Linked DNA regions of Homo sapiens. The protein of the gene in region 3 purifies or fractionates together with the protein of the main gene of each other region. This does not show direct contact. Each region holds a gene or a part of one and is shown on either strand. Other genes may lie near its edges.

Evidence for each region.
Region 1: the proteins of HNRNPDL (region 3) and MALSU1 purify together in Homo sapiens (affinity purification with mass spectrometry; 3 studies listed by BioGRID and IntAct, with this or other methods). This does not show direct contact.
Region 2: the proteins of HNRNPDL (region 3) and PAIP1 purify together in Homo sapiens (affinity purification with mass spectrometry; 3 studies listed by BioGRID and IntAct, with this or other methods). This does not show direct contact.
Region 4: the proteins of HNRNPDL (region 3) and YARS2 purify together in Homo sapiens (affinity purification with mass spectrometry; 3 studies listed by BioGRID and IntAct, with this or other methods). This does not show direct contact.

The regions. Positions count from the first base shown.
Region 1 is NC_000007.14:23,294,716-23,302,359, forward strand, and holds the start of MALSU1 (mitochondrial assembly of ribosomal large subunit protein 1), read left to right. Parts: upstream 1-4,623; 5' UTR 4,624-4,637; coding exon 4,638-4,893; intron 4,894-6,123; coding exon 6,124-6,302; intron 6,303-7,644. UniProt on the Homo sapiens protein: Required for normal mitochondrial ribosome function and mitochondrial translation. May play a role in ribosome biogenesis by preventing premature association of the 28S and 39S ribosomal subunits.
Region 2 is NC_000005.10:43,526,078-43,533,104, forward strand, and holds the end of PAIP1 (polyadenylate-binding protein-interacting protein 1), read right to left. Parts: intron 3,803-7,027; coding exon 3,709-3,802; intron 1,393-3,708; coding exon 1,299-1,392; 3' UTR 190-1,298; downstream 1-189. UniProt on the Homo sapiens protein: Acts as a coactivator in the regulation of translation initiation of poly(A)-containing mRNAs. Its stimulatory activity on translation is mediated via its action on PABPC1. Competes with PAIP2 for binding to PABPC1.
Region 3 is NC_000004.12:82,422,051-82,427,471, forward strand, and holds the end of HNRNPDL (heterogeneous nuclear ribonucleoprotein D-like), read right to left. Parts: coding exon 5,383-5,421; intron 5,255-5,382; coding exon 5,140-5,254; intron 4,584-5,139; coding exon 4,413-4,583; intron 4,080-4,412; coding exon 4,009-4,079; 3' UTR 3,987-4,008; intron 3,618-3,986; exon of another isoform or gene 3,513-3,617; intron 2,834-3,512; 3' UTR 519-2,833; downstream 1-518. UniProt on the Homo sapiens protein: Acts as a transcriptional regulator. Promotes transcription repression. Promotes transcription activation in differentiated myotubes. Binds to double- and single-stranded DNA sequences. Binds to the transcription suppressor CATR sequence of the COX5B promoter.
Region 4 is NC_000012.12:32,752,893-32,760,844, forward strand, and holds the start of YARS2 (tyrosine--tRNA ligase, mitochondrial precursor), read right to left. Parts: upstream 3,006-7,952; 5' UTR 2,983-3,005; coding exon 2,204-2,982; intron 1,194-2,203; coding exon 1,026-1,193; intron 1-1,025. UniProt on the Homo sapiens protein: Catalyzes the attachment of tyrosine to tRNA(Tyr) in a two-step reaction: tyrosine is first activated by ATP to form Tyr-AMP and then transferred to the acceptor end of tRNA(Tyr).

The DNA.
Region 1 (7,644 bases), on a different chromosome or scaffold from region 3:
TGTCTCTACAAAAAGTTAAAAATTAGCCAGGCATGGTGGCATATGCCTGTAGTCCCAGCTGCTCAGGAGGCTGAGGCAAGAGAATTGCTTGAGCCCAGGAGTTCAAAGTTAAGTGAGCTATGATCATGTCACTGCCCTCCAGCCTGGGTGACAAAGAGATCCTGTCTCAAAAAAAAAAAAAAATCATTCAGTACATGCATGACAAAGAGCTACTTGAAACAAAGCCACACTTTTAAATTTTTATTGAATTGCAATACCATCTACACCTATTTGCTGTGAGGGACACATTTATTTGGCCCAAAGACAATGTTTGATGCACATGTGGATTTGAGGGTCCTCTGCTGTCAAAAGGGGGTTCATGGTCCACAGCTTAAGAAACACAGATGCATAATAAATTCATGCATTGAGTAAGCAGAGGTCAGAGTGATAAGCTTCCCAGTATCAAAATTATATAAACGTAGTCATTTATACACTATGTGCCAGTCCCGTAATGTGTGATGTTAAGGTCCCTATGGTCCAGTATGGGCACATCAGGAAGCTTGCGCAATCTCTCCCTAGTTTAGCCCTTGGGCCTTTGGCCCAGCCTGCTCTGTATTTCTCTGAAGCAAGATCCTGAGGTCTGTGTGGTGTCATCTCCCAAAGTAGGCCCCTACCTTCTCCCCAGCCCCTGAGGCTAGCTGCAGAGAAAGTGTTTGTGACTGCAGCTTCTCACCTTCCCATGAAGCCCCAGGACACAAATTTGGGAACCTTTTGGCTCTGCTGCTAACACAGCAAACAGGAGGCTCCCAAATTACCACACCAGGGATGTAATTAGGGTCTGTAATAGGGAAGTCCTTGTACTAATGGACTGTAGTTAATTTATAATTCCTGACTCAGGAAGTTGCTTTTGGCTTCAATCCTCTGGCTCAGTACCCCAAAGGTAGTGATTATCAAACCACCCCCACTTCTGATTCTGCCTTTACTAAGCAACCAATGTCTGAAAACAATGTCCAAGCCCATGAGTAGATGGCAGTTTTGGGGGAAAGAGGGGCATTTTGCATTTCTGAGAACCTCTCTAATTTTCCTCAGGAAATATGACCTGTAAAAATGGATTTTGGTAATTAACATTAAGGACATGCATAGTGCTGGCAAACCTTGTCTCTGAAATCACAGATGATGAGAAACTGTTGTTTGGAATCATTTCAGTGAGAATGGAACATCCCGGTCTTGCCTGAAGACTCCGCATGGGGGTCATTTCACATCATTCCACACAAAGACACAGCTTCAGCATCAATCCTCCCCAAGGGCCAGCACTCCACATTTATCTTAACTTTTATAGTTCTAAGGAACAAGGACCCTGAGTCTGTTTCTCAGCCCTGCTGCTAATCAGAATGTGATGTTCCTAGTGAAGCCTAAAATAATGTTTTTAATAGGACATGATTCTCCCCAGACCACACGACTCTTGTGAGTGACTGACCAATAACATCTCCAGCCCCTGTGAACATTCTCCTGTCTCCTGAACAAAGATTACTGAGAAAAATTCCTAAACTTCCCTTGCTTCAGGACAGCACCCAGTCCACAGCTGACACCACTTCCTCTGATCTCTCCTTAGACTCACTGAGCATAAGCACGAGCCCTAAACAAAGCCCCTTCTAGTCCCTCTTCCTGAGCTGCTCCTCTGTCCTCCATAGCATGCAGTCTCCCTTGCTACAGCGAGTTAATAAAACTAACTTTGGGCCAGGTGCGGTGGCTCACACCTGTAATCCCAGCACTTTGGGAGGCCAAGATGGGAGGATCACAAGGTCAGGAGTTCGAGCCTAGCCTGGCCAACGTGGCGAAACCCCGTCTCTATTAAACATACAAAAAAATTAGCCAGGCGTGGTGGTGCACGCCTATAATCTTAGCTACTCAGGAGGCTGAGACAGAAGAATTGCTTGAACCCGGGAGGCGGAGGTTGCAGTGAGCTGAGATTGCACCACTGCACTCCAGCCTGCGTGACAGAGCGAGACTCCGTCTCAGGAAAAAAAAAAACTTTGACCACACGTGTTCCTGGTTGTCTTTTTCTGATGGGCTTTATCATAATGACTGGGTTCAAGCCATTTCCTCTCCATGAGGTCAATTTGTAGACAGATACTAATTTCCATATGATTACTACATGCCAAGCACTATGGTATATAATTTGTGCTGCATATTTTATCCAATTTTTCGAGACTCTGTGAAGAAGGTATCATTCCCTCATTTTACAGATGAGGAAACTGAGGCTCAGATTAAGAACTTCAATAGTACACTGCTAATAAACAGAAGAGGTGGAATTAAATCTAAGTCTTTTCTAGTGGGGTATCATGCAGTCAAACATAAATGTTAAAGACATTTATGAACAAAGGGATGAGGGGTTTCTGAGGGGCCATCTGAGAGAGTAGGGGGAGATATCTTAATGCTTAAGGTATGTCTTACAGAGTGAGTCTGAGTTTGTCATATGAAAAAATGGGAAAAGGGTGCTCTAAAAAGAGTAGTGGCCAAGCACGGTGGCTCACACCCGTAATCCCAACACTTTGGGAGGCTGAGGCGGGTGGATCACTTGAGGTCAGGAGTTTGAGACCAGCCTGGCCAACATGGTGAAACCCCGTCTCTACTAAAAATACAAAAATTAGCTGGGGGTGGTGGCACGTGCCTGTAATCCCAGCTATTTGGGAGGCCGAGGCAGGAGAATTGCTTGAACCCTGGAGGCAAAGGTTGTGGTGAACCGAGATGGTGCCACTGCACTCCAGTCTGGGTGACAGAGCGAGACTCCATCTCAAAAAAAAAGTATATGCAAAGCTTGGCATTGAAAGGATATGGTGAGGTTGCCAGGCATGGTGGCTTATGCCTATACTCACAGCTACAGTGGGGTAGATTGCTTAAGGCCAGGAGTTTGAAACCAGCCTGGGCAACATAGTGAGATCCTGTCTTTAAAAAAATTAAAAACAAAAATTAGCTGGCCATGGTTCCACATGCCTGTAGTCCTAGCTAATTGGGAGGCTAAGGCAGGAGCACCGCTTGAGCCCAGGAGTTTGAGGATGTAGTTAGCTATGATTGTGTGACTGTACTCCAGTCTGGGTGACAAGAGTAAGACCCCATCTCTTTAAAAAATAAAAATAAAAAAGGGTATGGTGAGTTTGAAAAACAGCAAAAAGCAGATAAAGCGAAAATGATTGTAGTTGATAGAAGGGCAGCATGGAGGATGAAAAGAGTAGAAACAGACTGGAGACAGGAAAGCCAGGTAGGAGGCAGTCTCTGTAATTAGGCAAGAACTAATGAGGGTGTGGACTAAGGAAGAAACAGTGGAAATGAAGACAAGAAGCTGAACTCACAGAAACATTTTGGAGGTCACATAAGCAGGATTTTGACAACAGATTCGTTTGTTGTATGAAGATCCTGGACTGAATGAAGTCTAGGGTTTGGGAGTTTTGAAGGGATAATGACCCATTAAATGAGCTGGCAAATACAGGTGGTAAAGCAGGTCTGGGATGTTCAGAGAAGGGTGGGAACACGGAATGGATGCCAGAAGCTGGGAGAAAAGCCAAGTTCATGCCTGTGGAAAAATGGAATTGAGGATGGGGCTAAAATTGGACAGAGGAAACTTAATCTGTAATGTTTTTCTTCTTTTCAAAAATAACTTGAAGTGGTTGTACATATCTGGTGTGATATACACAAATGCTTAATTTCTCTATTTTTAAAAAACTTCCCAAAATTAGTGCTTGGAATTATTTAAAATAATGTAGCAAACATTTTTGGAGTGCCTGCTATGTGTCTGGCACTGTTTCAGGCATTTGAAATATTTGCTCTCTATGAAGCCTTCCTTTCAGCAGTTAGCAGGCCTGGAGTTCAGAAGCCAGAAACTGGCTTCTGATTCTGACGCAGTCAGTAAGTGTATGACCTGGGCAAGTTGCTTCCCTGCGGCGTCCCACGCCCCCAAAACCCCCCACCCCCCCACCCGTGCCAGGAATCTATCGCAGTTCTCAAGTCCTGTGACTTAATACCGCAGCTGGCACCTCAGAATTCCTTATTCTTACAGAGCTGGTCCCCACAGTACCGCCCCTGGGCGTAAACTCCTCCATACAGGGAGTGTAGATGATGGGCTGACCTAAGAACGGTTTCCAAATGGTCCTTTACACCTCTGCCTCCCACCCCACTCTAGCCCAGGATAACAGATTTTCCTCGCGCAATTTCAAATTTGCAAGGGAATCTTGAATATTTTCTGGTAATGAGAGAGGGTAGATTATATGTCCTAATCCCAGCCTAATCAGATTAACAGCAACTTCTGGACATTCAGTACCAGGAACTGTTTTAGGTGCTGTGGAGAGAAGAGTTAAAAATGAAACAAAAATTATTGCCTTCATGAGCCTCACATTAGTGGACAGAGTCCAAAAAAAAAGTGACAACGTAATGCGCTACTGCGACACAAAGCAAAGCAAGGTGGGCAAGCAACACTAGTTCTTTATTCCCGCACGCCCTAATCCCCAAGTAGCTCTTCCGGGTCACTGCAGTCTTCACGGGCTCCAGACTCCGCCCATGGTCCGTCCTTCAGGCCTTGACTCCGCCCACGCATCGACGTAGAATTTCCCGGCCGGGCTCCATGAAGTACCACCCACCCGCGACGCCGACGCAAGGCTGCTGCTATGGGGCCGGGCGGCCGTGTGGCGCGGCTGCTCGCCCCACTAATGTGGCGCAGGGCGGTTTCCTCGGTGGCGGGGTCCGCGGTTGGAGCCGAGCCCGGGCTTCGGCTGCTGGCCGTGCAGCGGCTTCCCGTAGGAGCAGCGTTCTGCCGGGCTTGCCAGACCCCAAACTTTGTCCGCGGCCTGCACAGCGAGCCTGGGCTGGAGGAGCGGGCGGAGGGGACGGTCAACGAGGGACGCCCAGAATCGGACGCGGCAGGTACGGGCGTGGAGAAGAACGAAGGCGACCCTCTCCGGGCAGTCTGGAGTCAGGTCCCAGCCAAGGTGGCTCTGGGTTCCCCTCTATGTGCATTTCTCTTGGAGTCACAAAACTCCTGCACATCCAGAGCTGGAAGGGACTTCAAAGGTTGTTGGCGCCAACCTTCCCGTTTCACAGTGAAGAAATTGAGGGCAAGAGATGAACTGCAGAATCCCAGCCTCCCGGACGGCCATCTCCCACCCTTGGCATCACAGTCTCACCGTCCTCACTTCCTTTTACCCTCTTCCTAGGATCCTGGGAAATGGGTTTGTGGGGACTGTTGGGGCTTGAGGATTCTGAGGAGCCAGGGTCTGGGTGCGAAGGGGTGCGTAGGAAGCGCCAGTAGGAGATGGGTCCAAGTTAATATCCTCTAGTTATTGCTGACGTTTTTAGAAACTTAAGAATGGTAAACAGATCACATCTAAGAATGTAGAGTATGAGAGGGAGAGGCCTTAGTGGGCTTAGCTACTAGGTCCTTTGGAGTCGGCTTTAGAACTTGGGCGAGCTTTTAAATTTACAGCCTGTAATACTCCAAGCTGAAGATCAGAATATCTAAATCTTTACGGGAAAAAAAATTAGATTTTCATAGGTAACAGTTGTTAATAACCCGGTGGTTTTATATGAAAACTGGAAGGTTCAAAATAATAATTACTCAAAAATGTAGCTCTTTCAGTGACTGATCTTAGGCCACAGTAATTCTCCTAGGCCTCAGTTTCTTCATCTCTCAACTGAAGGTTGTGGACCAGATACTGCCTAAGAGCCCTTCCAGCTCACAATTCTGTGACCCGTTATGACTGAGATTCAATTTAATATGCTCCAGGATATCACCTCCTACCCATTTTGTGGTGCTGTTTTTCTTTGCACAGCATTTCTGTGATTGTGGTGTATTGCTCCTTTTAAGTATTAGTAGAAAGTCATTTGTCACTGGTGTCTGGTTCTACTTGCATATGGTTAATAGCGAAGGATGTATAGTGGCTCTGCGTAATCTGAGCACCCTGACCATAAAAGTTGAGCGGTGCTATGATACTACTGCCCAGGTTCACCTTCCAGGAGGCCTTTACCCTGCTATCTGTAAAAACACTTTGGATCTAAACACCCTCATGGAGGAACAGTCAGCTGCCGGCATCTCTGGGTGCATACACGTCTATCTGCTTGGCCATCCTGATACAAACAACTATTTGTGCATTTCAGATCATACTGGTCCCAAGTTTGACATCGATATGATGGTTTCACTTCTGAGGCAAGAAAATGCAAGAGACATTTGTGTGATCCAGGTTCCTCCAGAAATGAGATATACAGATTACTTTGTGATTGTTAGTGGAACTTCTACCCGACACTTACATGCCATGGCCTTCTACGTTGTGAAAATGGTAGGATGCTTTCTTTTCTCTTTTGGACCATTAACTGAGTGGAATAGTGACAGTGCATCAGGCCAAGGAGCAACACTTAGAGGGTAAACCCATCATACAAAGTTACAGAAGAAGCCCAAATTTTCAGAATTTGCATGAATTCATTTTATGTTCTTTGATAGTGAAACATATGGGAGCAAATATCCAGCCCTATTGAGTTAGGATATATCAAAATCTTTTCTCTTGTGACCGCAAGGAAGATTTTTTTTTTTTTTCTAATTGAGATGGAGTTTTGCTCTTGTTGCCCAGGCTGGAGTGCAATGGCGCGATCTCTGCTCACCGCAACCTCCGCCTCCCGGGTTTAAGTGATTCTCCTGCCTCATCCTCCTGAGTAGCTGGGATTACAGGCATGCGCCACCAGGCCCAGATAATTTTGTATTTTTAGTAGAGACGGGTTTCTCCATGTTGGTCAGGCTGGTCTCAAACTCCTGACCTCAGGGGATCCGCCTGCCTCAGCCTCCTAAAGTGCTAGGATTACTGGCATGAGCCACCTCACCCGGCCGGAAAATAATATTTTATAACCTGAGGCAAGCTAGAAGACAGTATAACCAGAGGGATTTCTAGAGGCACTATCCATTACGGTAGCCACTAGCTACATGTGCCTATTTAATTATAAATTAAAATATAAATTCAGCCGGGCGTGGTGGCTCAAGCCTGTAATCCCAGCACTTTGGAAGGCCAAGGTGGGTGGATCACAAGGTCAAAAGATCAAGACCATCCTGGCCAACATGGTGAAATGCCGTCTTTACTAAAAATACAAAAATTAGCTGGGCATGGTGGCGTGTGCCTGTAATTCCAGCTACTCGGGAGGCTGAGGCAGGAGAATGGCTTGAACCTGGGAGGCGGAGGTTGCAGTGAGCTGAGATTGTGCCACTGCACTCCAGCCTGGTGACAGAGCCAGACTCTGTCTCAAAAAAAAAAAAAAAGATATAAATTCAGTTCTGCAGTTATATTAGCTATATTTCAAATGCTCAATAGCCACGTGTGGCTAATGGCTACCATATGGGACAGCCATAAAGCATTTTCATCATTGTAAAACGTTCTATTGGACAGTGCTGGCCTGGAGTTTCATTCAAAGATTTGAGCATGTCCAGTGTTCCCAAGCACTGTACGGGGTATTGGGAAGGTAAGAACAAAAAAGATGTAGTCCTTGCCCTTACAGGTCTAGTTGAGGAAAGAAAGGGGGATTGTTTTCCAGTTGCACTGAATATGAATCAGAATGAGGAAGAAAGTACTTGGAAGCCTCTAGCTGACTCTGGTACCATTCCACGGGGCCATGATACCTTTCTTAGTCTTAGTCTGT
Region 2 (7,027 bases), on a different chromosome or scaffold from region 3:
GGAATTTTAAAGTTTTAATGTTTTATATTTGCTAGTTTTTCAAGGTAGACTTGTTACTGAATTCTTATTCAGAGAATGAATAAAATATCTTCTAATATGATTTCTTTGATTTCAAACCATTAAGTAAATTAATTATGTCATTTAAGTTCAACAGCAAATTATTTAAAATACCAGATGCTACTTCAAAAATTTAGAGGAAACAACTATTTAAGCTTTATTTTCAAAGTCTAATTTTAATTCAGACTGAACAAACAAGCAGAAAAGTGAGAAAGCTAACTGTATTAGCAGACACAGATGTACCAAATGTAAAACAGTGGGTTATTAACAGAACTATTTACATGCATATTTACAAGCAATCCTTTTGTACACAGTTTTTAGTTAGCTGGAAAAAGATTTGACATTAGGTAAAAATATTATTTATTAGGGCTGAGGTGGTACCACATTATAGTAAAAGTATTAGAAAAGTGACCCTCAAGGTGTATCAATTATAAAGCAGATGAAAACTTGAATGACAAATATCTAGTAAAATTCTCTAGTAAAAAAGTCGATGCAACCCATGCTACAAAATAAAAGTGAGAAAGCCATATAAATAAAGCAGAATAATGTTCTAGCCTTTAAGGTAATGAAGTTAGTCAGTTGAAAAAATAAAAATAAAAAAGAACAATTCTAGAATTGGAATAAATCTTCAGTGAAGTCTTGGTTGTTTAGCTGGGAGTTCACCAAGTTGGGTTTTTCCCCCCCATGACATTTAAAAAGCCCTTGGTATCAAATAGCATCTGCATATGTAAATCAGTTGTTGATATATTCCAAGACTTTAGTGCTAAAGATTTTCAAGATTATGATTCATATTTGAAATTCAATTCATTGGGACACTAAATGTCAAACTAAAATGAAAGCTATAATACTCCTACCTAAAAAAGGATGCTACATTTTTGCAGTAATATGTATTTCCAGAAGAAGACTTTTTCCCCTCAAGAAAAGTAGAATTTAAAGGATAAGCATCTAACCAACTAGCAAAATTTTCAACATTTCATTTATTTCAAAATCGATTTTATTGCAGCCAAAACAGTAGAATTAACTGTACATAATAAACTATTATATATATATACACATTTTAAGTTATAGGGAATAAAGTTTATTTTGGCAGATAGTGTTAAACAAAATTAAAGTTGCATACATTAGTAACATAACTCAACATCCTTAATTTGGTATAGATGTGACATTTTCTTGCTCTCTTGTGTTCTGCTAAATCACCATACCTAAACTGCTTTATAAAACTGATATGCTGAAATTTAACTTTACTGTTTTCGCTTACGCTCTGATTCCAAACAAAACTTTTCATAAGCTTCTTCTATCTCTGGGTCCATCTCATCATCAATATCATCCAAGTATCTGTAAAAGCAAAGATGATTCATAAGTGTAAGGTTTTTCAACTCAGAAAGTAAGATGCTAAATCATGAAAAAAATAATGTAATACAACTTTCCTAGACTGACTTATAATAGAACACAAGCCTAACTTTAGAATTACATTAATGGCAGTCTTCGGACAACCAAATGCTTAATTTGGTAAGTAAAATTTTACAGATTCTGAGTCCCTTGTGTGTGAAATTATAGTAAAGAATATATATACTTTTAGACATAAGTTAAATTCTATAACCTGAAAGTTAATCAAAGGCTTGACATATAAACTTGGGGCTCAAGATCGATATTAATAAATTTACCTTACCAACAAACAATTAGAATATAACTATTAATAGAACATAATTTCAAATATGCCATTCACCTCTAGTGATGCACTAATATTTTGTGTCTACTTAATAACAGAAAGTGCTATTCCTGCTATGATTTCTGCTGGGTTATTCCCATGATGACAATTTAGTCACATTCCCATTTATTTGGAATCAGATTTTCACAGGAAGCTACTTTTGAGATCATCTATTCCAGATTTTTTTCCAACTATTAGGTAGTTTAAAATGGTGGAAAGCAAGGCTTCCCATAGTTAAGTATGGCGGGAAAGATTTAAAGTGTCAATTAAGGATTTAATCTACACATTCTTACTGAATGTCCATAGCCATCTTAAAAAGATATGCATTACGATCATCTTCATTTTGGAGATGGAAAATAAAGAGATTCTGGAAGGTTAAATGAACAATGTAAAATTTTAAGTGTGTGGCGGGGCCAGAATTTGACTCCAGGTCTTACCCCTTTTCCTCCATAACATGATTCTATCAACATCTTCCCCACCCCTCCAATAATCCAATCCCTTCCACCTACAAGCATGAAAAAACAATCTTGCCAACCCTACCAACTGCTGATGAGTCCTTTTCTGTTTCTTCCCCATTTCCAATACAGGGCCATGTGTTGAAATAACCATGAGCTCATTAGGGCAAGAGAATATGATGCTTACCAAATAAACTTAAGAGGATAACCTGAAGTTCAATGCCAAGAACAACTTTATCTTCCAGCGGTATACCCAAGTAGATGGAACTTTCCTAGTTCTGCCTGGGTCCTTAAATCCCTGTATTTTTTTTGTTTTCTATTAAACTAGAATATAGAAGTACAGCAACAATTGTATTTCTAGATCTCAAACCGACACATAATTAAAATATCACTAGAATAAAAGTGGTTCACTTTTTTAAAAAAATCTACAACACAGGAGATATTAAAAAAAAAATAAGTTCAAGATATAATTTATTCCCTCCCATCTCCTACTTAGGAAGAAAAGAAACTAAGTAGCCTGTCCAAATATACACAAGTTGTTAACAGAATTGGTACTAAACCTCACAATTTCCTGGTCCTTCTATAAGAAAATGTAGTGCACTCTGATGGTAAGTGAGTAATATGTTTAAAGGGATCTTTAATTACAAAGAGTGGCAGGTGAAGAAACAGATATATAAACAGTCCTATAATTAACATCTTCTTATCAGTTCAAACATTTTTACATAGTAATCTGTTTTCTTTACTCTTAACTTACCCTTTAATAGCTAAGATTTGAGCCTTCTACTGTGTGCCGGAAGGCTAAGTATTTATGTATTCTCATGTAGTTCTCAAGAAAAAAAAAAAAAAGACTCAACAGGTACTACTATTCTTATTTTATAGATGGAGAAGCAGAACAGAAGTTGCCCAAGATCTTACAGTAAGTTTTAGAGCTTCTTAAAGTCTAAATACAATAGAATCTATTTTAAAAAAATAATTATGCTTAAGTATACTATATTTTAATGGTTATTTTCCTCAACTATACATTTTTCAGAACTAGTCTGTGAGTTAATACAATTTTCTGAAAATTTTTAGTACATAAACACTACCACATAGCACCATCAAATCAAAATGCCTTTTTTTTTTTTGAGACAGAATCTAGTTATGTCTCCCAAGCTGGAGTGCAGTGGCACGATCTCGGCTCACTGCAACCTCTGCCTTCCAAGTTCAAGCAATTCTTGTGCCTCAGCCTCCCGAGTAGCTGTGATTCTGTGATCCTGGCTAATTTTTGTACTTTTAGTAGAGACAGGGTTTCGCCATGTTGGCCAGGCTGGTCTTGAACTCTTGGCCTCAAGTGATCTGCCCTCCTCAGCCTCCCAAAGTGTTGGGATTACAGGCACGAGCCACTGCGCCTGGCCCCAAACACCATTCCTTCATGAGCTACTTTGTCTAATCTCCACCTATAAATTAGACACAGAAATTTCACGAAGTTAGTAACTGAAGAAAACTTACGGATCACCAGCCCCGGATAAATCTGTTCCATTTTCTTCATAATCTGGAAAAAAGTCCTCTCTTTCAAGTAATTCTTGGTATTTCTCTTGGTAATCTGTAAGACAACATAGGAGAAAAACTAAATACTGAAAAAATATCACATGAAATGACCAATCACCCCTAAATGTTTTTTAATATTATGACTTTTGCCCCCCTGCATGCTCAGAAATCTTAAAGTAATTACATATAGTACTATAGATATAAGTTGGAAATCAAAGCCACTGTAGGTGATGTACATTCATAGCCAATGTGTTTATATCCTCTACTGCTGCTTTCCATCAGACAAAATAATGGTTATATAACTGTTGGGGAAGAACAGTCCTTCCATTGGAAAGATATTAATCAAATACTACTGGTTTCCAGCTCCCTCTGTACTCCTCCACAAGGAAGTAAAGAAAGCAGGTAACAACAATTGGTCTCTGTTCCTCAGATGAAGTTAACCTACCAAAAGTTTTAACAATGGGGGATTTTCCTTCCCTTTCTTCCCAGAGAGATGGGGAAGGCAGCTACCTGGTAAACGTTTCAGCTCTGCCAACTTTCCTTTCATTGGGTCCTCCAAGGTAATACAGGTGATATTACACCTATCTGCCAATTGTCTTAGGAAGAGTTATTGGGTACCTTTTAAGTTAAGTATTTCTTTATGAAGTCCTAACCTCTGAATAAAAAAATGAATCAGTATATATTAAGACTAGTTACCTTATAGTTTCTTATGAACAGAAGCCAACGGAAATTTTGCAATTATATTAGACTGGGTAAAAGCCATGTTCTTCCAAGACTGTGTCAGTCTGTATAAAACCGTAACTCCAGCTTCAAGGGCTGGGGACATTTTGATACCCAATTTTGACAATTTAGAGACCGTTTTAACAGTAAAACCTTCCTGCTACAAAAAGACAGGCATTCTTTTAAATGTATGGATAAGTTCACAAAAAAGAAAATCCAAGTCATCAGGTCACAAATGAAGAAGGAACTGAAAGCCATATATAAACTGCAGCTGCTGCAGCTGGGAGGCTGACAGATGATGTTGGTCTCGGTAACTAAGGGGCTTGGATTTTAAAACCCACAGAAAGCCAGAAAGCAAGGTCTTGGGCCCCATGTGAAACAGGAAAATGAAATCCATGCTCCATGCCCAACCTCACCTGCACAAACCTGGGACCCTCAAAGGTCTGGTATCTTAAACAAAAGGTGAATCAGGAAAAAAGACCAAGAAATATCTCAGTGGTATTTTATCTTCCCTGCGAGATAGCAGGAAGCTTGGTCATGTCTGCCTGGGTTTGGAATAGGGACAGAGCACTTTGTAGAAATTGGTGCCCCAGAGAATTTTTAACAATGGGCCTGCACCTCAAATTCCTACTACCCACATAAAGAACCCCTATGACAAGAAAACAAAAAATTTGTCCAAGTCAGTGATACCTACTCTGTGGCTCCTGGCAGAAGGAAATATAAACCATTTTGGACAGAGGTTCCTATAATCCAAGCCACAGTGTTTTTCATTAAAAAAAAAATGAAAAAAGAAAAAAGAAAAAAGACAAAGCACTGAAGCATTTAATCAGGGTCATATTAATATGAAACTTCAAATGGTTTAAGAAAAAAAAAAAAAGTGTGTGGACAAGGTCAGGAAGTCAAGACCAGCCTGACCAACATGGTGAAACCCTGTCTCAATAAAAAAAAAAAAAAAATACAAAATTAGCCAGGCGTGGTGGCACAGGCCTGTAATCCCAGCTACTTGGGAGGCTGAGGCAGGAGAATTGCTTGAACTCAGGAGGTGGAGGTTGCAGTAAGCCGAGGTTGCATCACCGCACCCCAGCCTGGGTAACAGAGTGAGACTCTGTCTCAAAAAAAAAAAAAAAAAAAAAGAGAAAAAAAGAAAAGTGTGTGGAAAGAGCACAAATGATAAAGCAAGTAACTGTTAACAAAAAGTACACCTGGGTAAAAGGTATTCCTTGTACAATTTTACTTTTGTAACTTTTCTGTAAGTTTGAAATCATTTCCAAATAAAAGTTTAAGACGGTTAAGGCAAAAATTTTATGTGTGATGATCAGAAATAACAGAAGGGTTATAATTAAGAGATAAAACAAAAATATAAGACAGAAGTAAGCATGTTTAGAATGATGAGAAAAAATAACTTGAAACTCTGAGAAAAGGTCAAGATTATTTGAACAAAATGCAGAAACAAAATTTAGCTTGATTTTTCTGTAAAACTGTAAGATTTCTTTTACTTTCATGAAGTATAGCAGATTAAAAAACGTTTAAGAAAAAGAAACTGAGATCTACTGGCTGTCTACATTACTTCTTTTCCTTGAAAAGAAACTGAACAACCAAACTGAATTTCTGTAAATCGAACAGTACTAGAAACAATTAAACAGGTTAGAAAAAATAAAAAACAAATAATCAAAATAAATCAAGGTAATTTTTAAGAATAAGAGGAAAGATTTGTCTTACCAGACATAGCAAGATTCACAGTAAGGTAAAAATAATTTAAGTGTAGTATTGGCATAGAAAGAGATTAACAGAAAAAAAGATTCACACAAACACAGGAATAAGACACAATTTGATAGAAGAGTTACATAGTATACAACAAAGGGGGCTTATTATAACTAGGAAAGGAAGGATGGCTTAATACCAATTGTTGAGACAACAGGCAATGGAAAAGATAATTCCTATGATATCATCCTATATAAAAATTGCACTGGTAGATTAAAGACCTAAAAATAAAAAAGAACAATGATTTTTAGAAGAAAACAGAAATGGTAAGGAAACTTTCTTAAACCACAGAAATTACAAACAAGACTGATAAATTTTGTTCACATTAAAACTCAAAGGTTCTACATGACATTATAAACAAAATGCAAAGACAGGCAAATACTGAGAGAAAGAAGGTAACCAAAACCCTCAGCTAAGAATCACTTTGTTCTAGACTACAAAAGGAATTACAGATCAGTAAGACAGACAAATGATCCAACAGAAATATGAACAAAGAGTATTAGCAGGCAATTCTCAAAGAAAGAAATCAAAAAGGTCAACAAGAACAAGAAAACTTCAATATCACTTGTCAGGGAAATAAAATATCAGCAAGATAGAATTTCATACAATCTGATGGACAAAAATTAAGTTTAATAAAAAGTATTGCCAAAGATGAGGAGCAGGAACCCTCATGTGCTGCTGATGGGAAGATTAAGTGGCATAATCATGCTAGAAAACAATTTAGTAACATTTAGTGAAGTTTAAGATGCCCATAGCGTGTAACTTAATTCTACTTCCTTGCCCTAAAAAAACTTCTCTG
Region 3 (5,421 bases):
TACTAGGATTACAGGGATGAGCCACTGCGTGCGGCCAGCTTAGTCAACTTTTTAATTGGTGAAGTTTAGCATCCTGTGATTTTTTGAGACAGGGTCTCACTTTGTCGCCCAGGGTGGAGTGCACTGGCGCAAACATGACTCACTGCACACTTCACCTCCCTGGTTCAAGCAATCGTCCCGCCTCAGCCCAAGTAGCTGGGACTACAGGTGTGCACCATCACATCGAGCTAATTTTCGTAGTTTTTGTAGAGACGGGGTTTTGCCATGTTGCCCAGGCTGGACTCAAGTAATGTACTTGCCTTGGCCTCCCAAAGTGCTTGGGATTACAGGCATGATCTACAGCACGCAGCCTAGCATCCTGATTGACATTAAATCAAATCTTGGTACTGGAAAGTAGCTTAATTGTTCAGATATGCCCTTGTATTAAGTTTTGTGAAGATTAGTGAGGATCTCTGCCATTATGAAAATAAAGATCCACTGAAGAGTAATGGAATAAGCTCTGCTTATCCACGCTAGCATCCCAACAGACATCTCATTTTAATAGTCCTCATCTTATAAAAGTGAGATTACAGATTAACATGTTAACCAAAGAAATTACTAAGGTGTTTTGTTAGGATAACATCACACAGAATTTGGTCTGAACAATGCAAAAGGCAAATACGATGTATAAAAACATATACAAACCGAGCATTTGTTATAGGTACTTTAGAATTAATTTCTATCCTCTTCCCGAGGATAACATCACACAGAATTTGGTCTAAACAATGTAAAAGGCAAATACGATGTAAAAAACATACACAGAGTATTTGTTATAGGTACTTTAGAATTCATTTCTATCCCCTCCCCAATAAACTTGTCCAATTACTTTGTTCTAAATTAATCCTTGGGAACGAGATCTTGATAGTAGCTTCAGTTCATCCAACCTAGGACACTTAGCCTTAGAGTATCTGTTCAAATTTGCATCAGTTGGTGAACTGATAGACCCTGAAATCTGAATTAAATCTAGAGTTCAAAGCCCAAATCTAGAGTTCAAAGCCCCTGCAAGAAAAACCAATTCTCACTCCCCCTTCAATTCTTTGCAAAACATCTCAATCATCTCTAGATGTAGTGTATTTTTTCTCAGTCATACATATCAAGACTTGATTAAAAGTTTGGATTTTGTTTAAAAAGGCTTTATTCATTTTTTGATCAGGGAAAAGGACAATCTCAATGTCAACTCGTCACCTAATCATAAATTTGAACTTACAGGATTCACTACCCTAGACACCGCACCTACTGACAACACAACTTAAAAATGAACTTACTTCCATTCCCTAAAGTTGCATGTTGAATGAACAGAATCCCTTCTAACAGCCAACATTGGTACTTGGCCTAAGTTTAAGAATAGCAAAACAGCAGCAAAAAAGAGGCCAAGAGCATTATAATGTGATAGCCCAGGAAGTAGAATCATTGTTAAGAAAGTTGCAGGCACCAAATTAAAAAAAAAAAGGGAGGGCTCATGAGCATAAGAAACTTACCAGTTTTGTGAGATCACCCGTTGTGTGAGATCAACTACTCTGCCTGTGAACACGTATGCCAATCCCAGTAAATAACACTGAGGCCAAGGTCCCAAAATCCAACTACACTGAATGCAAAATCCAAAGCTTTTTATTATTCCAGGTCCTCTGAAACCTGGATATAAAACGGATTCTTTTCAATGCACCCAGAGGGTCCACTGTAATGACTCAGTCACATTTGTAATGACTTAGTCACATTTGTAATGACTTTGTCATAACCAAGATACCTTTTCCACTATTCCTTTCTGAATATGTAAATATTTAACTACTTAGTTCATGCACTGTGTCAAAAACTAGATTTACTATCAAGACTTTTTCTAAACTCACAGAGCATTAACAGCTAATACAACTTCCTCAGGATGCCCAAACAGAAAACATTTTGTTCAATCTTGTGGCGGCTCTGAGAAAACACAACTAAATCTTATTTTGCCACTATTTTAATTTTTCGACCAAACTCATACCTTTCTACCAAAATCCTTGAGTTGTAACTACTTCCAATGCTCTTAAACCATAGCTCCTACCAGTTTTACAGTGCTCCTTTTGTATCTGAACTTTTATCAAGAATTACTCATTGTGTTATGATTACAAAGCTTTTTCTAGGTGACCACTGATTAAAGCCAAAGTAATCAGCAATTCAAAAATGGCTTTCCAGAGACAGGAACAAAGTAAAAGGAGCTACTAACAATTTTATTACAATCCAGAAGAAATATGGTCTACTAGAAAGCTTCTACTAATCACAACACTTATGTCTTCCTTTCAGGACAGTCTTCAGATAACCAGAAGGGAAAGAACATTGTTCAAAGGTGTGGTAGAAATCTCAGTTACAGGGAGAAGATGAAGCCTTAAGAGCATAAAATACACCTACAAATTGGAGAAGAGGGTGACGCTGGCTGGCTATTTATAAAGGACCACAGTTTCTCTGTATGGACCAATACTCTACAAAATCAACTGTGCCTTAATTATTGCTTATTTTAAATTACATTTTTTACAGAGCTATGTAGTACCTGACGCAGAAAAGCAATCACATAAGGAAGCATTTATTTGAGGTTTAACATGAAATGATACAAATAAAATGTGTATAAACAAATCCACATTGAGTCATAACACAGATAGCAAAGGACAAAGTAAAAACAAAGAAAACTAATTGGCAGCTATATACAGTTGGACACAATGGTGTCTTGTACACTAGAAAGTCTTTTACAAAATAATCATCTTAGATCAACAGAAGACCAATCTTCAATGTCGTCCTGCAAGATGGGTTACTTTAACATCTCCTCCTAAAAACAAAAACAAAATACCAGTTAGATTTGTGCAACTCTGACAAGCTTTTAAAGGTCCACTTTCATGAATTGTTTTAAGTCCTCACTTTATTTTCTTCAATAATTAAAGATCATATGCATATTTATTGGTAAAATACAGTTTGGGTAGTCAATAAACTCACCCTGGAGTTCCCAAATGACATTAAATTCAAATCTATTCAGGAAAGAATCTGGGAATACAACCTTCCCATATTCAGAGGTTCAACTATGCTAGATTAAGGTCTACTAGAAGCATCTCTAGTAACCCAAGTAAAATGCTATCACAAACACCAATTTCTAATAAGTTTATTACAAGAACATAAATTGATCTGTGCATATGATCTTTAATTTATATCCCAGATTTAAAAGTTCTTGTTTTGGTTTGTAGATTTCACTATTAGCTATAAAAAGAAAAAGCAAGCATTAAATCTTAAAAGAATGAACACTTAAAATGAGGCTCCACAATTGAAATACAACACTAAACAGAAGACCAAAATGATTAAGCTGTAAAAAGGCATTTATGTACTTTAACTCCTGTAAAAAACCATTTAAGTTAAGTTTAGACACTTAATCTCCAAAAAGATTAAAAATGAAGCCAAAGTCTGAAGTTTTCCACTTTAATCTTTACGCTGGTACATGAAGTTGGAAGAGACCATACCACAGGACAGCGTTTTCTGGTGTATGCCTTGCGCTCTGCCCGCAACGTGCGACCCCCAGAGATAGACGTGGTCAGGGTGACACACGGCCTGCAATGAAGTTCCCGCTGGCGGGTACAAACAAGGTATAATGTCAGAGTTAGAAGACAACATTCTTGTTTTCCTTAAGTTGTACCCATTTCAGTACTTTACCTGTTAATAGTTCTAAAATGTTTAATTATTCCTCTAGACCACCTGGTACACAAAAGCAAACAGAAAAACTCTTAAGTTTTTCTGCAATACTAAAGAAAGTGAGATAAGACTTTAAAGTTAAAGATCTATAGACACTTTAGGCAAAACAGGCTCATAAAGCAATTAAAAAATCAACAATTTAGTAAAAACAGGCTACATAGTATTTTGTTTTTACGTTTCATTTGTCTATTGATCTTTAAATTAAATTAGACATTTCTACTGTTTTCCTGTACTCTTATACACACCTGTTTTCTCCAATGTTCTCCTTTAGTATGGCTGGTAATTGTTTTGGTGATTGCCACCCCCTCGAGATGCCTTGCCATAAGTGCTCTGTTGGCCTATTTTGAAAACACAGAATTCTCATTAAGATAGTTTTCTACAAAACTTTCTTTACAAACACAAACTATTAAATCTACAAATCTTTGCATGCTAAATAAAAAGTATTAAGATATTTTAGCACCCATTAGATGCTACTCATAAATCATACATCCTAGTTCATTTATAACCACCAGTCTATGTTAGTATAATCATCCTATGATTGTAACATGCCTCAAACACTTAACTCCGAACACTTTAATGGAAAGCCCATACACACAATTTCAGAACAGGATTGTATGTTAACAATGAATTTTAATACCACTGCTTTATAAAATTAAGTTAAATATTCTTACCACTGTAGTCTGCATATCCCTGTCCATATCCATAGTTCCCATAGTTATACCCAGTATAATCATATCCGCCATAGCCACTATAGTTTTGATCACCACCATAGGCACTATTGTAATTTCCATATCCTTGATCATAATAGTTATTAAATCCTTGGTTCCAGTTTTGGCCCTGACCTGAAACAATGCACAATGATTGTTAGGAAACAACTTCTGACCCCCAATTCTAACATAAAATGATGCGTTCTTGTCTCTCACTCTGCAAATCTTAAAGGGCAGAATGGACATATATATTGCTATCTGCTTGAAAAACTATTTTTCCAGCTGTTATAAAAAAGGAGGCAGAAAGTCCAATTGTGCCAGTATCAAACTTCCTAAACTTAATGGAAAATCATTCAATTTTCCATTAAAGCCGAAGACAGGTACACTGTTCTGTTTAAAACAAGGACTCCTGCCCAAGAAAACCTATCACACCACGGTGTATCATGTAATGGTACACTTTTCCTATCAGTGATGACACTAATTGTCAAAGTGGCCACACTTTTAACAGTTTTTTGAAACCAGTGAGCTCACAACAAAAAACCACCACACACAACCTCCACTAAGCTGAACAGTCCCCCCTCCGCTGGAATGGTTTTAAGTTTAAAGTTTTGCTTTGGTACAGGACTACTCATATTCAGCAGTATACAGCTTAAATAAACCACGGAGTCATATTTCAAGAATTAAGTCTCACCTCGGCCACGACCCCTCGTACCACCTCGTCCACCAGCTGCAGCACCTCTTCCACCTTTTTGTTGTTGCTGTTGCTGCCTATATACCTCTTTGGGTTGTGCAACTTTGATTTCACACTATAAACAAAAAACATGAAAGTATAATTTTTACCGAAGTTCTAAAATTAAATCATTTTATTTTTCTCCACATCAAGAAATTATTTCAATTATTTAAATTTTCATTTAAAGTGCTTAAATGGCTTTACCTTCCCAGAACCAATTTGATGGTATCTGCTTTCTAACAA
Region 4 (7,952 bases), on a different chromosome or scaffold from region 3:
CTTCAAAAACATCTTGGCCAATCTTAGCCCTTTTTATTTCTATGTCAGTGTTACAATGAGCTTGTCAAGTTCCACAAAAAGCCGGTTTAGATATGGTTGGCACTGTACTAAATGTAGATCAAATCCAGAACTGGTATCTTGGCCGGGTGCGGGGGCTCATGCTGTAATCCCAGCACTTTGGGAGTCTGAGGCAGGTTTATCGCTTGAGTCCAGGAGTCTGAGACCAGCCTGGGGAACAAGGTGAAACTCCACCATTACTAAAAAAAAAATACAAAATTAGCTGGGCATGGTGGTGTGCACCTGAGCCTGGGAATTTCAGGCTACAGTGAGCCAAGACTGCGTCACTACACTCTAGCCTGGGCAATGGGAGTGAGATTCTGTTTCAAAAAATACAAAAAAGAACTGATATTATTTTTGTACTATGAATATGGTCTAACTCTCCATTTATGTAGGTCTTTATTTTGCTCAATAGCATCTTTTAATATTTTGCAGGAAAGTCATATACCTTTTAAGTCTTAAAGAATTATTCCTAGATTACTTTGATGTTACAGAGCATCAAAATATTTTTTTCACTTTTTGTTGCAGGTATATTTGTTTCTCATTAATTCATATTCTTCCAAGAGTTTAAGGCAATTTGATTTAAGGAGAAATCATTTCTTAAGAGGATCTTTAAAGTCATATTTGTGAGAGAAGAGAGACAAAGGAAAAATAAGGGTAGTCAAGGTTAAGTTGAAAGGAGTGAAAAAACTAGAATATGCAGGTGATAAAATCCTAAGAACTTGCTAGATACAGATCAAAAAGTTGGCTCTACATTTTCTAGCCACCCACTGTTTTTCTGCTTTAACCAACAAAGTGTTTAACTTTAGAACACAGTAAAAATTAGTCTTCTATGATGTAATGGTTTATGTACAGACAGAAACTACGTTAAAAACAAAAAAACTATAAAATGTACATAGATTCAATGGCTAAAATTACATCATGAGTTTATGGTGTCAGTTTTTCTCAGCCCATTATTCAGAACTCACCTTTCCACTGAATCGTCCGGTTGCCTGACAAAGAATTGATACAATTCAAATGGAGATGTCTTATCTCTGTTTAGCCAAACAGCGTTGCCAGCAGACTTTCCCAGCTTTGCTCCAGTTGTACTTGTAATTAGAGGAACGGTGATTCCAAATACATCTTCTCCAGTCAACCTACGCATAAAGAACAATTTCATTATGTGCCTCAAGCACAAGTGGTGGTAGGTTCTACTGTTCACCTTCCAGATTTCTTTCTGGTTACTTGCTCCAGGAAAACTTCCTTGACCTCCTAAATCTGAATTCTTGTTCCTCTTATGTATTGTTACAGTACTTACTCTATTCATTCTGAACCTCATGAGTGGTTCCAGGCAGGTTCTAGGCAGGCCAAGGGGAAGTGCTACATAACAATGGACTAGAGATTTTGAAAGGCTGAGTGGGAAGGAGAAAACTGGGTGAAGGGGTGTCAGGAAGAGACACTAAAGGAAATCTTCTAAACGCCTTTTAAACATGTGCTTTGCTCTGTTGCACATGAGCTAGCCCTATCCTTCACCTCTCTCAAGAAAATGCTATTAGACCCGCATTACTTGTCAATTATTTGGAGTTGAAAAAACTTTTTGAGATACCAACCAAGGACTAACACTAGTTTCATGGAGGGTGCAGAGCTAAAGCAGAGGCTAGCTACTCAAGGAGGCCCAGTCACGTTCTGGTATAAACACACAAAAGCAGTTTCTCTAATTAGAGAGGACGACTTAGGCGAAGCAAAACAGACCGACCAAATCTTCACTAGTGGTCTGTTTCCCTTTTTTTTTTTTTTTTTTTTGAGACGGAGTCTCCCTCTGTTGCCCCAGGCTGGAGTGCAGTGGCGCGATCTCGGCTCACTGAAACCTTCGCCTCCCGGGTTCAAGAGATTCTCCTGCCTCAGCCTCCCGAATAGCTGGGATTACAGGCGTGCATCACCACGCCCAGCTAATTTTTAGAATACACCGTTTACTCTTAATACCCTTAATTCAGCCCTTTAATTCTTATTAGCCAGTGTTATTAACGCCATTATAGAGCCTTAATGGGGATAAAACCAACAAGAGCTGGAACGAAGGGCAGCAACTACAATCCTAAGAGTGAATCACAGGCTACTAGTGTGTAAATTATTTGGTCCCAGGATTTCCCCAAGGTTTAAAGGCACTTACTTGTTGATGAACTCATATCCGGACATGATGTTGCCTAGTTGATCAGATCCGCCCAGCTGGACCCTGCATCCATAACGCTGGAAGAGGTAATAGAAGTCATAGGCCTGGAGCACCTGGTAAAAGAACTCGGCCAAGCTCATGCCCTCGGGGCTCTTGAGCCGCAGCTGCACGCTCTGCCGGCTCAGCAGCGTCCCCATGCGGAAGTGACCCCCCACTGCCGCCAGGAAGTCCACCAGGTGCTGCTTCTGGTACCAGGCCGAGTTGTCCAGCACAGTGAAGCTGCCCCAGGAGCGCCCATCAGTGAAAAGCTGCTGGTGATTAGCCGCCAGGGCCTCAAGCCCTAGGCGCAGAGCTCGCGCGTTGGCTCGCACGCGCTCTGTCTCCAGCGCCTCGCGTTCCTTGGTACGGCCGCTCGGGTCTCCCAGGCGCGCCGTGGCGCCTCCCACCAGCGCGATCACGTTGTGGCCCGCTCGCTGCAAATGAAACAGGCCCAGCAGCGCAAGTAGATGACCCACATGAAGCGAGTCTGCCGTGGGGTCGAAGCCACAGTAAATGGTTTGGGGAAAACTCGCCGTGCCACGGTCGAAGAGCTCTGGGAGCTCTATTTTCGTCCCCGTCTCCGGGAAGAAGTCCTTGAACAGACCTCGAGCCTTCTGCGCTGCCAGTAACCCCTGAGCGCCCGAGTGGGCCTTACGCAGCCCCAAGGGCAACAATACTGAGAGATTTAGGGTACCAGACCACCGGCCCCAGGAAAAGGACCGCAAGATGGGCGCCGCCATCTTGGTAGCGGCACGAAGGGAATGCTGGGATTGCAGAGGCTCCCACCACACCCACCTACTTACAGCTCCTAGGGAAGGTGCTTCAGTGTTTTTCTGCGCATGCCCGAGACGGTTACGTAGTTACGGAGCTTGCGCTCTCAGCAGTTGAGTCCCGACTCCAAGTGGCGATTCCGCCTCAGAGCCGTCGCCTTACGTTCCCTTAAACTTAATTTTTCCATCAGCAGTGTGGATCTGCTTATGATAGTTCCTACCTCATAAGGCTGTTGTGAGCCTTAAAAATTAAAGCATTTGGCACATAACGCTTCACAAATGCTAACTTGTATTTACATTTTCACGTAAAAAGATTGTGATGCGCAAGTTCTTTGAAGTCTTGGTTCCATGCAAAAAGCTGTTCACAGAGGTTGAGAAAGGTTAGGAATTGGTTTAAGTTCGCGGAGAGATAGGGAGTTGCTGCTGAGACGCAAGCAATTTCATAGTACCGATTCCCTAATTGCACCTCGTCCCCAGTATTCATCGGCTCTTCCAGGAGGTGGCAGTCTTGTCCAAGGTATAGCAAGAAAAACTCAGTGCAATAAAGTACATGCATCAAGTCCTGTGGTTTATTTATTTTAAATACAGTTAACTAGGTTGGGACACAGCTTAGCATGAGTGGATTCAAGTTAGTAATCACATCGTGCAGCGTGACAGGTGCTCTGAATACTGACCAGGGATGAGGTTCTTATTGGCAGCTGGCTGGCAGGTGATCTAGCTTCAAAATCCCATGTTAGAGCCTGATTTCTAGGACCGCTTTCAAAATCGTCTTAGGTAGAATTCCCTGGACTCTGAGTTGGGGGGGAGACTGGTTTGCAGGAGGGTAATTGGAGTGTGCTCTTAAGAACAACACCTATAATGGAGTGAGGGAGGCCGGGTTGGGCGGAGGGAGAAAGAAGTTGAACTGTGAACAATTTGTAATAGAGGCCTCAGGCAATCCAGTAAGGGCTCTGGAGCCGGGATTTCCTTTCAGAGTCATCCTGAATTGAGGCCAGGGGGCAGACCTTTAGACCCTCTTACTGACTGCTCATTAAATGTGGGATGTTTCTGGGGAGGAAGCAAAACGCTGGGTTAAGGCTTTTGGAGAGTGAGATGTGCAGGAAGGGACTCAGCTGTGAGCAATAAGCAACCAACACTCCCAGCAGCTGGGGGATTGAGTGCCTTGGTCCTGTGACTGGGATCTGGGCCATGTTCCAAATCATTCCCTACAGGACTTTTCCATTTTTTAACGTTATAAAGTTATCTAACAAAATGAAAACTTATTTTAATAATTAGTTTCTTTGCATGTATAATTATCAGTGAATTAGTTTCTCATTGCCAAATAGTAACTTCAATAGGATTTTGAGATACTCATTCAATAGGCTATTAAACATACTCCCAACTGCTTAAGAAAATAGTGTGTTCAAAATATCTTAAAATTTGCAATCATAACCTGTTGATCTTCAGTGTTTTTTTTTTTTTTAAGTGTCACTCTGTTGTCCACACTGGAGTGCCGTGGCAGGATCATGGTTCACTGCAGCCTTGAACTCCTAGGCTCCAGCGATCTTCCTGCCTCAGCCTCCCAAGTAGCTGGAGCTACAGGTGTGGACTACCATGCCTGGCTAATTTTTATTTTTTGTTTTTGTAGAGACGGGGGTCTCACTGTATTGCCCAGGGTGGTCCTAAACTCCTGGCCTCAAGCAAGCTTCCCACCTCTGCCTCCCAAAGTGTTGGGATTACAGGCATGAGCTACTTCGCAAGGCCAATCTGCAGTCATATGGTCCACCACTTTGATCAGGGACAGATTTCAGTAGGTATGGCAGGAAATTCTCCTGAGCACACGTAAGGAAACTCACATCTGGGCCACTTGTCACTTGAAAGCCAAAAACCCAAGAGAAGAGCTGTAGTGAAAGTAAAGTTAGCTTTATTCAAGAGACCAGCAACCCTGGGGGATGCAGTGAGCTAGCGTTCAAAGACCACCTCTGGTTTTTAAGGGCAATTAAGAGAAAGGATGATAAAAAGATTTTTGTGAAACGTGTGCAGTCTCAGGTCGGCAGTAAATCATTGCTTTCTTGGTCAATATTTTGTGGCTTTCTGCAGGTACCATCAGCCTATTCTTATTAGGTCGGTCAGCCCATTCACAGAGAGGCTGATCTAGGTATTTTCTTTTATCTCTGTTCAAGATCCTGTTTTTCTGAGGCTGATTTTAGTGAATGATCTACAAAATCAAGCAAAGTAATAATTGTATTCAAGTAAGCAAGCTTTCTTCTAACATGGAATCAGTACTGTCACACACACAGCAAATGGTGCTTTCTATTTAGTACCTTAATACATAGGGCACACATGTGTTTCTGGTGACACACAACTCTCTGGCTTTTACAGGTGTGTTAGTAATTTGAAAATCCTACTTGTTACAACAGTATGCCAGGGTTACTTGATGTCAGGGTTACTTGATGACCTGTGCTTAATGGAGAAGAATTTTGTGGATAATGAGAAATAGAAAATTTCTACCTGGGATTACAATTTATTATAAAGTCTTTTAAAAATAGATTTGAGCTCTGCTTTGTCTCTTAAGTTTAGTTGCATCTCATGAAGAGGCAGCAAAGTCTGATATAGAAGGTGGTGTCGGGCCGGGTGCGGTGGCTCACGCCTGTAATCCCAGCACTTTGGGAGGCTGAGGTGAGCGGATCACTTGAGGTTGGGAGTTTGAGACCAGCCTGACCAACATGGAGAAACCCCATCTCTAATAAAAATACAAAATTAGCCGGGCATGGTGGCGCATGCCTGTAATCCCAGCTACTTGGGAGGCTGAGGCAGGAGCATTGCTTGCACCCACGAGGTGGAGGTTGCAGTGAGCCGAGATCATGCCATTGCACTCCAGCCTGGGCAACGAAAGCCAAACTCCGTCTCAAAAAAAAAAAAAAAAAAAGAAGGTGGTGTCACAGGAGGTGCTAGATGAGACTTGACAGTAGCTTAATGACAGTAACAAGCAACAAGTTTGGAAAATACAGTGAGATCAATTACTCTCTTTTTATAATTTGTGTTGGTATTATAGGGGAAATTGGGCTTTGTCCCAAAGACAGGAGCAATAAAGAAGATGGGACTTTCAAACCTTTGGAATTATATCCGTGGCTAAAATTTTATGGGATTGCACCCATGGTTTGCATTTGGGTTACAAAAAAGTGACCAAGTTAATTCTTGCTGTTTTTATTGGCTTAAAAAGTGAGTGAACAAGGGTTAAAAAGTATTTTTAAAAATATGATTTATCTCAACTGTAATAACTTGAGGTTAACTGGCCTTGAATTAGAGGCACATGTGTTTTACAGTTACCTTTTCCTGCAACAAAATGCCACATAAATGTTCTCTTTGAAGGGATCCCTGTTTTAAATGGCTTGGTTTTCAAAATGTAAACAAATATAAATATAATAGAATTCAAAAGACACAGAGTAAACAGTAATGGTATTTTAACTGATCTCTACTTAACTTTGAAAATTTCTCTATCTCTAGCATTGTATTAAATATATATTCAGATTACAGCAGAGATCTGATTAGGGCTGAAATATGAGCTGCTCGAACATCACAGCAAAATGACAGCAGAAAGAAGTCTGAGGAATTCTGATCATTATAATCACTATAAAATATAATTCTTATTTGTGTTTTCTGTTTTTTTTTCCTTGGAGAAGATTATTGGTGACATCAGATGCAAAAGGGAGTGGATAGGAACAAGAAATAGAAATTGTAAACCTATAATTGTAAACCTACGTAACCATGCCCGGTTACGGCCGGGCATGGTGGCTCACGCTTGTAATCCCAGCACTTTGGGAGGCTGAGGCGGGCAGATCACCTGAGGTCAGGAGTTTGAGACCAGCCTGACAAACATGGTGAAACTCCCGTCTCAACCAAAAATACAAAAATTAGCCAGACGTGGTGGCGGGCGTCTGTAATCCCAGCTACTCAGGAGGCTGAGGCAGGAGAATCACTTAAACCTGGGAGGCGGAGGTTGCAGTGAGCCGACATAGCACCACTGCACTCCAGCCTGGGCAACAGAGTGAGACAACATCTCAAAAAAAAAAAAAAGAAAGAAAAGAAAAAGAAATTGTAGGTTATTGCAGAAAGGCCATGGCTTTTCTTCCAGTTGAAGTATTTCCATGGCTTTTCTTCCAGTTGAAGTATTTCCATGACATTCCTATCTCCTATTACTTGGGAAGAATCATTTCTAAAGATTGATTTCATGTCTTTGTTGTCTTTGTATAATAATTTATAACTCAATCTGCCTCATAATTACATCTTCTCACACATGACTTTCATGTTGCTGTTTTTCTTGAAACCTACATCTAAAGTCCTAAAGATCCTCCCACTCTGCCCATCCTTACCTGCAAGGCAGTTGCTCCCCTTTCATTCCAAACTAATTTCTTTCAGGAAGCTCCTCTGCATTAGGTAGGGCGAAGGAAGGATGCTTTTACTGTCCAGGTTCATCATGCCCCTAAAATGTATTAAAATGTAAAATCAATAATGCTTACCCTTCCCACACAAAAAAATGGAAAGACCATTAAGTTCTATTAAAATTTATAGAAATTTATGTGAGCTAAGTGTCTTGAAACCTAGTCTGTGTCCCTTGATTGAAGTGGCTTTAATGCTTTTTGAGCTGATGGTCATATTAACATCCAAAAATTTTTTATAAGAGATTAGCTTATTTTAAGATGCTGATTGTAGGAGGATAATTAGACAAAGAAACATGTTACTAGATATGCATTTCCTTTCTATATTAGAGTTTAGAGAAGGATACCCCAAGTTTCTTTCTTTCTTTCTTTTAGGCTGCTGTTGTAGCCAGTGGAATAACCTGGAGGTCTCAGCATTGCCTTAACTTTATGCACCTGGTCCCATACCATATGGCTGGATAATGTTTTGAGATATTTATGGGTTTAAAAATCTTTCATTTTCCAGGCCGGGTGCGGTGGCTC